Linked DNA regions of Homo sapiens: region 1 is linked to region 2. Evidence: fine-mapped expression QTL. A gene starts in region 2. The other region holds a variant in brackets. All regions are shown on one strand. Distances are between the middles of the regions. Region 1 overlaps ZNF555 (zinc finger protein 555). Region 2 holds the start of ZNF554 (zinc finger protein 554).

Evidence for each region. PIP is the estimated chance that this variant, and not a neighbour inherited with it, causes the effect. A credible set is the group of variants that fine-mapping cannot tell apart.
Region 1: its variant is the best candidate, but not a certain one, in a credible set for the expression of ZNF554 in whole blood (INTERVAL, PIP 0.62).

Annotation. Positions count from the first base shown.
Region 1 is chr19:2,849,401-2,853,789 of GRCh38, reverse strand. It overlaps ZNF555 (zinc finger protein 555), which reads right to left. Exons shown (of 4, transcript NM_152791.5): 2 at 3,077-3,203; 3 at 2,139-2,322; 4 at 1-1,410. Among named protein-coding and RNA genes, the nearest start is that of ZNF555, 10 kb to the right of the region's middle. The variant T/C (reference allele first, on the strand shown) is at 2,457.
Region 2 is chr19:2,817,768-2,822,156 of GRCh38, reverse strand. ZNF554 (zinc finger protein 554) reads right to left here and starts at 2,289. Exons shown (of 5, transcript NM_001102651.2): 1 at 2,033-2,289. The coding sequence starts at 2,085. RefSeq lists an enhancer at 1,185-1,878 and a silencer at 1,811-2,250.

The sequences.
Region 1 (4,389 bases), 32 kb before region 2:
CAATTGAATGCTTTCCCACAATGCTTACATTGATAAGGTTTCTCTCCAGTGTGCAGTCTCATATGTATTGGTAAAGATGATGGCCATTTGAAGACCTTCCCACATTCCTTACATTCATAGGGCTTCTCTACAGTGTGCGTTCTCACATGTTGTTGCAAAAGTTCAGGCCAACTGAAAGCTTTCCCACACTGCTTGCATTTATAGAGTTTCTCTGCGGTATGTCTTCTCATATGTTTTTGTAAGGATATGTGGCAATAGAAAGCTTTCCCACATAGCTTGCATTCATAGGATTTGTCTTCAGGGTGCATTCTCACATGTTCTCGAAAGCAAGCAGACAAGCTGAAGGCTTTCCCACACTGCTTACATTCATAGGGTTTCTCTCTAGTATGTGTTCTCATATGTTTTCGTAAAGATATGGGCCAATTGAAAGTTTTCCCACATTGCTTGCACTCATAGGGTTTCTCTCCAGTGTGCACCCTCATGTGTCCTCGAAAGGAGGAGGGGTGACTGAATGCTTTCCCGCACTGGTTGCATTCATAGGGTTTCTCTCCACCATGAGTCCTTTCATGTCTTCGAAAGGACTGGGGATAAATGAAGGTCTTCCCACACTGTTTGCATTCGTAGGGTTTCTCTCCAGTGTGAATCCTTTCATGTCTTCGAAAGGACTGGAGATAAATGAAGGTTTTCCCACATTGTTTGCATTCGTAGGGTTTCTCTCCAGTGTGTGTTATCATGTGTCTTCGAAAAGCCGAAGAATAACTGAAGGCCTCCCCACATTCTTTACATTTATGTGGCTTCTCTCCAGTGTGTGAAATCATATGTCTTCGAAAAGTTGAGGAATAACTAAAGGCTTCCGCACATTCCTTACATTTATATGGCTTCTCGCCAGTGTGTGTTATTGTGTGTCTTCGAAACGTTGAGGAATAACTGAAAGCTTTCCCACATTCCTTACACTTATATGGCTTCTCTCCGGTGTGACTTCTGAGATGACTAGTAAGACTTGAGAAGTCAATAAAGGCTTTCCCACATTGCTTACATTCGTAGGTTTTCTCAGCAGTGTGAATCCTTACATGCCGATTGAGGGAGGAAGTACGAGGAAAGGTTTTCCCACATAATTTACACACATAGGGTCTCTCTCCATTGTGGGTTCTCACATGCATTCTTAGGTGTGAACGACAACTGTAGGCCTGCCCACATTCCTGGCACTGATATGGTTTGTGTCCAGTGTGAACTGTGATGGGACTCTTGAGGGATGTGCGGCGATGCATGAAGACTTTTCCGTACGTGTTGTATTCATACTGTTTTACTCCAGGTGGAATTTTCTTGTACAGATTAAGATGTGGAATCTGGCTGAGGGCTTCTCCACATTGATCATTACTTTCACAGAGTCTCTCCAACCCATGATTTCTACTAAAAATGAGAAGCATGTTATTGGTTTGATTAATAATGATTTGTTAGTATTTATTAGGATTAGGACTGCATCTTAACCATTTTCAGTGAAAGCATAGGTTTTTCACCCCATGGGAACTGTCTGAAAATGAAATAAACTGAATGCCCTGGAAGATGGTTTGACCACTGCCATTATTAAAACAGTGTTTCTTATGTATAGGGTTTCTTTCTCTTTCTTTCTTTTTTTTTTTTTGAGACAGAGTCTTACTCTGTTACCCAGGCTGGAGTGCAGTGGTGCAGTCTTAGCTCACTGCAACCTCTGCCTCCTGGGTTCATGCAATTCTGCCTCAGCCTCCCGAGTAGCTGGGATTACAGGCCTGCGGCACCATGCCCTGCTAATGTTTGTATTTTTAGTAGAGACAGGGTTTCACCATGTTGGCCAGGCTGGTCTCGAACTCCTGTCCTCAAGTGATCTGCCCACTTCAGCCTTCCAAAGTGCCAGGATTACAGGTGTGAGCCACCGTACCTGGCCTAGGGTTTCTTGATAATGGTTTCCATCTGAATTATGTTTCTAATGTCACTCACTGTCTATGTCACATTTAAAGAAATATTTTTTTGTAAAAATTCTGTGGATTAAACAAATTGGAGCTAGGCTTGGATGAGTTTTCTGTTTGCTTGCTTTTTTAAAGTTTAATGACAGACTAAGATTCTCTCCTGAAATACTATGTTCTCTTGTGAGTGCAACTCACCTGAGATTTCTCCCCTGGTTTGTGGTTTGATCTTCGATGCTAAGACTGTCCCAAATTTTTCCTAAAACAGAGGCCCAGGAAACATTTCTGGTGAACGTGGCTATTTTAGATTCCTTGGGTATTTTCTCTCCATAAATATCCTGCTGAGAAACTGACCCACTGGCCTTAAATTGAGTTTCATCATCTGAAACCAAAAAGTAAACAAATCATATAAGAAGGCACTTGTTAGCGGAAAACGACACTGAGGAGTTTAGCTATCTCAGGACTTCATTAAACACAAAATGGTCAAAAAGGTAAGCAACTCAATCAACACAGTAT[T/C]AGTAAGCATAGAAAAATTATTAAAAAAAAAAATTCACGGCCAGGCGCGGTGGCTCATGCCTGTAATCCCAGCACTTTGGGAGGCTGAGGCGGGTGGATCACAACGTCAGGAGTTCAAGAGCAGCCTGGCTGACATGGTGAAACCCCGTCTCTACTAAAAATACAAAAATTGGCCAGGGATGGTGGCGCTCGCCTGTAATCCCAGCTACTTGGGCGCCTGAGGCAGATAATTGCTTGAACTCGGGAGGCAGAGGTTGCAGTGAGTCGAGATCACACCACTGCACTCCAGCCTGGGCGACAGAGTGAGACTCCATCTCAAAAAAAAAAAAAAAAATCAAATTTTCACTGGCTTGCACAAACAAATTTCACTAGGCCTATCAAAGCTATATCCACAATGACGACATGAAGGGAGCTTTCTCTACAAAAATAAAAAGCTGAAATACAGATTCTCATTCTCATGGAAAAACATTACATTCTAGCTCTATGACAGCTGTGACTATGTCTGTCTTATTTACCAATTTATTCCCTTTCCACATTCCAAGCCTTGGAACAGGTCTGATGTGTAAGAAATACTTGTTCTCTCAATAACTACGTGAAGGAAGGAATGATGTCATCCTTACCTACTGAGGCCAGGTTCTGAAAGGTCTCCAGCATCACATCTCTGTAGAGGTCCCTCTGAGCAGAATCCAGCAAAGCCCACTCCTCCAGGGTGAAGTCCACAGCCACATCCTCAAAGACCACTGAGTCCTAAAACAATTCAACATATTTATGGGAGGATGGTTGAGACCGAGAGCCCAGGAGCATTGTACTCAATTCGTATGTAGTTCAAACAAGATTCTGTGATTCCCTGACATCTACCCTGTGACTCAGTTGTCACACCTCTTCCTTCCTGTCTACACTCACTTCCTCATAGATTTCACAGGACCATTAACACACTGAATTTCTCTCTATACTTTTACTGGGACCAACTGAAGACATTATTCTCTATCAAAAGGATTCAGACCACATTGGAGATATCAAACAAATGCTATATAAGTGAAACAAATACTTGTATTTTAAGACCATCAGTGCCTTGTCACACAAACCGTTTTAGCTCCTCCCCTGCTGCACACACCATCATTCGGCACTACACAAAGCACAGGGTCAAAACTGAAGTTTTATGGGATAAAAACACTGAAGGATTGGGAACATTCCCTTCTATTTCCTTCATAAGGGCCAGGTAGCCATAGCGTCTTAAAGAACTCCTGGTCCAACTGGCTGAATGAAAACATTCTTTTGAGAAGTATTGATTTTAACTTGGAAACTAGAAGTTATTGAGAAATTAGACCTTAGGAAAGAGGAAAAAGACACGAGAACGTAGACCTCCACACATTCCCTATACTTCGAGCCTCAGTGACGGAAGCCCAACAATTAATTCTGGGTTCTCTCTCTCTCACACGCTGGCTCTCTCTCGTACACACAGGCACACTCACTAAGTATACACAGAGCGAGGTGCACACAATGCCAAAACAGCTCTTTTCACCAGAGCCGAAAGAAAGTATTCTTGGGCCAAGTGTGGTGGCTCATGCCTGTAACCCCAGCACTTTGGGAGGCCGCGGCAGGCAGATCATTTGAGGTCAGGAGTTCAAAACCAGCCTGGCCAACATGGTGAAACCTCATCTCTACTGAAAAAAAAAAAAAAATTAGCCGGGCATGGTGGTGCACGCCTGTAGTCCCAGCTACTTGGGAGGCTGAGGCACGAAAATTGCTTGAACCCGGGAGGCAGAGGTTGCAATGCATCAAGATCATGCCACTGCACTCCAGCCTGGGTGATAGGGCAGGACTCAGTCTCAGAAAAAAAAAAAAAAAAAGTATTATTGCTAACCTTAAGGATAAAGTTAAGAGTCCCACTTTGCAAAGGAGTTAACTGAAGTCCAAACCATTTGACTACGAA
Region 2 (4,389 bases):
ATTATTTGAACCTGGGAGACAGGGGTTACAGTGAGCCAAGACTGTGCCACTGCACTCCAGCCTGGGCAATGGAGCAAGACTCTATCTCAAAAAGAAAAGATAAGGAAAAGAAGAAACAAAAGCTCTCAGGAAAAATCCTTCCGCCTCTTCCAGCTACTGGGGTCATGAGTATTGTCCTTATAAGAGAAAGAGACAGCTGGACTAGGTGACTCACGTCTGTAATCCCAGCATTTTGAAAGGCCAAGGCGGGCAGACCACGAGGTCAGGAGTTCGAGACCAGCCTGGCCAACATGGCAAAACCCCCGTCTCTACTAAAAATACAAAAATTAGCTGGGTGTGGTGGCGTGCACCTGTAATCCCAGCTACTCGAGAGGCTGAGGCAGAATTGCTTGATCCTGTGGGGTAGAGATTGCAGTGAGCCGAGATCGTGCCACTGCACTCCAGCCAGGTGACAGACCGAGACCCCATCTCAAAAAATAAAAATAAAAACAAAAAAGGAGAAAGAGACACAGGGAAGAAGGCCACATGATGATGCAGGCAGAGCTTGGAGTGATGTGGCCCCAAGCCAAGGGACACCAACTATGGCAGGCCACCCCCAGAAGCTGGAAGAGACAGAGAAGATCCTCCCGCCAGAGCCTTCAGAAGCACCACGGCCCCACCACATCTTCATGTTGGGCTTCTGGCCTCCAGACTTGTGAGAGAATAAATTTCAAGCCTCCCCCTGCCCCCTGGTTTGTGGTGCATTGTCACAGCAGCTCCAGGAGGCTCATGTAAGAACCAAAGGCGCCGGGCGCAGTGGTCACTTTGGGAGGCCGAGGTAGGTGGATCACCTGAGGTCAGGAGTTCGATACCAGCCTGGCTGGCCAACATGGAGAAACTCTGTATCTACTAAAAATATAAAAATTAGCCAGGCGGGGTGGCGTGCACCTGTAATCCCAGCTACTTGGGAGGCTGAGGCAGGAGAATCACTTGAACCCACGAGGTGGATGCAGTGAGCCGAGATCGTGCAACTGCACTCCAGCCTGGGCAATAGGGCGAGACTGTCTCAAGAAAAAAAAAAGAAGAAGAAAAAGAAACCAACCTGTTTGGGTAGGGGAGAGTTCAGGGAGGTTGGGGTTGCTAGAGCAGCAGAAAGGTCAGCTGCCTCCCTCATTCCTCAACATGGGTGGTGGGTATAAACAGAATAGACCCTTGCAGCTGCGCGGTGGCTCACGCCTGTAATCCCAGCACTTTGGGAGGCTGAGGCGGGTGGATCACCTGAGGTGGGAGTTCGAGACCAGCCTGGCCAACATGGTGAAACCCCGTCTCTACTAAAAATGCAAAAATTAGCCGGGCGTGGTGGCATACGCCTGTAATCCCAGCTACTTGGGAGGCTGAGGCAGGACAATGGCTTGAACCCGGGAGGCGGAGGTTGCAGTGAGCCGAGATCATGCCATTGCACTCCAGACTCCGTCTCAAAAAAAAAAAAAAAAGGACCCTTGCTGTCTTATCACCAGGACAGCGGTGCTAACGTATAAGTGAGGTCTCTCCCTCAGGGCGCTGTGGACACTGGAGCCTGGGTCATTCTCTGGGCTGGGCAGGGTGCTGAGTTGCATCCCTGGCCTCCACCTACTCCATGCCAGGAACTGCCCCCAGTTATGACAACCACAGACGTCCCCAGACATCGCCCGGTGTCCCCTGGAGGGCAGGACCGCCCCTCGCTCAGACCCTCTGATGTGGCCTCACTGCAGTGCGAGCGTGGCAGCCCCTCTCTGCCTTTAGGGTAGAGTCAATGCGTCTTCTCCCTCTCCTTGCAGGCTGGGCCTCGGAAAGCTTATGCGTCTCTCACCCAGGGGCGTTTTCACAGGGCAAGGGCAGACCGTGCCATCCTGGGCGTTGGGGCCCTGGGCGAGCTGCCGGCTCCCGACCCTCCCGTGGGGACCCTATCGCGACAGGGTCATGCCCCGGCCACCCGGCCCCGCCAGACCCAGCCCCACCAGAGCCCCGGCAGGCCCGGCACGGAGGTCGCGGCGCGGGAGGCGGCGGCACTTACGGCTGAGCTGCCGGGAGCCGCGCGCGCCGGCCCAGGTGGGCGCAGGTGACCATCGGGGCGCGCGCTGAGGCGCCAGACAGGGCCCCCGAGGCGGGAGCGCCCCGTGCAGGCCGGCCGGCCTCCCCTGCGTGTCCCTGGGACGCCTCCTCCGCTCGGCTCCTCGGCGCTCGGAGCGGACGCCCCCCGCAGGCGCCCCTCAGGAACTCGCCGCAGCCGCCGCCACCAACCCCGACGCGCGCAGAGGTAAACTCGGCACTGCGCCTGCGCACCCCGAACCTGCGAACTACAAGTCCCAGCAGGCCCCGCAGCGCGGCGCTGGGCTCCTGACTCTCCAACCTGGGTCACAGCGCCGCCTCCGGGCGGGCGGCGTCTCCGCAGGACCACGATGCCCCTGCGGCTGTTGGATCCACCCCGTGTGGTTCGCTGGAGTCCCCGGGTGTTGTGGGGTTCGCGGAGCCAATCCTCAAATCCCAGCTCCGTCGTTTCCCGGCGGCTTGCCATTGGATATTAATAACTACTATTATTTATTAAGCAAGTTATATAAACGTATAATGTATTACATACTTATTAAAATGATTGCTTAAGTAATTGTTGTTTGTTTTTGAGACTGAGTTTCGCTCTTGTCGCCCAGGCTGGAGTGCAATGGCATGATCTCAGGTCACTGAAACCTCCGCCCCCTCGGGTTCAAGCGATTATCCTGCCTCAGTCTCCCAAGTAGCTGGGATTACGGGCGTGCACAACCACACTCGGCTAATTTTTTATATTTTTGGTAGCGACGCGGTTTCACCATGTTGGCCAGGCTGGTCTCGAACTCCTGACTTCCAGTGATCTGCCCGCCTTGGCCTCCCAAAGTGCTGGGATTACAGGCGTGAGCCACCACGCCCAGCCAAATTAAATTATTGTTTAAATATTTATTTAATATTCTACTGATTGTTATTTATGAGAAATTAAAATAGTAAAACTACTATAATTAATATACTGTTGTAGGATACAACAAATTCCTCTTCAAAGGTTTTAGCCTGTAAATTGTTAAGTACAATCAGTTATGAGCTCCTCTCCAAAGAACCAATGTTTCCGTATATTCAGCTCCCCTGTTCTTTTTTTTTTTTTTTTTGAGATGGAGTCTCGCTCTGTCGCCCAGGCTGGAGTGCAGCGGCGCGATCTCGGCTCACTGCAAGCTCCGCCTCCCAGGTTCACGCCATTCTCCTGCCTCAGCCTCCCAAGCAGCTGGGACCACAGGCGCCCGCCACCACGCCCGGCTAATTTTTTTGTATTTTTAGTAGAGACGGAGTTTCACCGTGTTAGCCAGGATGGTCTCGATCTCCTGACCTCGTGATCCGCCTGCCTCAGCCTCCCAAAGTGCTGGGATTACAGGCGTGAGCCACCGCGCCCGGCCACCTATTCTTTGTTCTTCATTTTAAACTTTAACTTCCTCGTTCTTTTCGTTTCCTTGCCCCTAGTTTCAGTAAACAACCCCTCCTAGCCCCTATCACCTGCTCTGACCTTAGTCACCCTTGGTCACCTGCTCTGACCTTAGTCATCCTTGGTCACCTGCTCTGACCTTAGTCATCCTTGTCACCTGCTCTGACCTTAGTCATCCTTGGTCACCTGCTCTGACCTTAGTCATCCTTGGTCACCTGCTCTGACCTTAGTCATCCTTGTCACCTGCTCTGACCTTAGTTATCCTTGGTCACCTGCTCTGTTCTTAGTCACCCTTGTCACCTGCTCTGACCTTAGTTATCCTTGGTCACCTGCTCTGTTCTTAGTCACCCTTGTCACCTGCTCTGACCTTAGTTATCCTTGGTCACCTGCTCTGACCTTAGTCATCCTTGGTCACCTGCTCTGTTCTTAGTCACCCTTGTCACCTGCTCTGACCTTAGTTATCCTTGGTCACCTGCTCTGTTCTTAGTCACCCTTGTCACCTGCTCTGACCTTAGTCATCCTTGGTCACCTGCTCTGACCTTAGTTATCCTTGGTCACCTGCTCTGACCTTAGTCACCCTTGTCACCTGCTCTGACCTTAGTTATCCTTGGTCACCTGCTCTGTTCTTAGTCACCCTTGTCACCTGCTCTGACCTTAGTCATCCTTGGTCACCTGCTCTGACCTTAGTCACCCTTGTCACCTGCTCTGACCTTAGTCATCCTTGGTCACCTGCTCTGACCTTAGTTATCCTTGGTCACCTGCTCTGACCTTAGTTATCCTTGGTCACCTGCTCTGTTCTTAGTCACCCTTGTCACCTGCTCTGACCTTAGTCATCCTTGGTCACCTGCTCTGACCTTAGTTATCCTTGGTCACCTGCTCTGACCTTAGTTATCCTTGGTCACCTGCTCTGTTCTTAGTCACCCTTGTCACCTGCT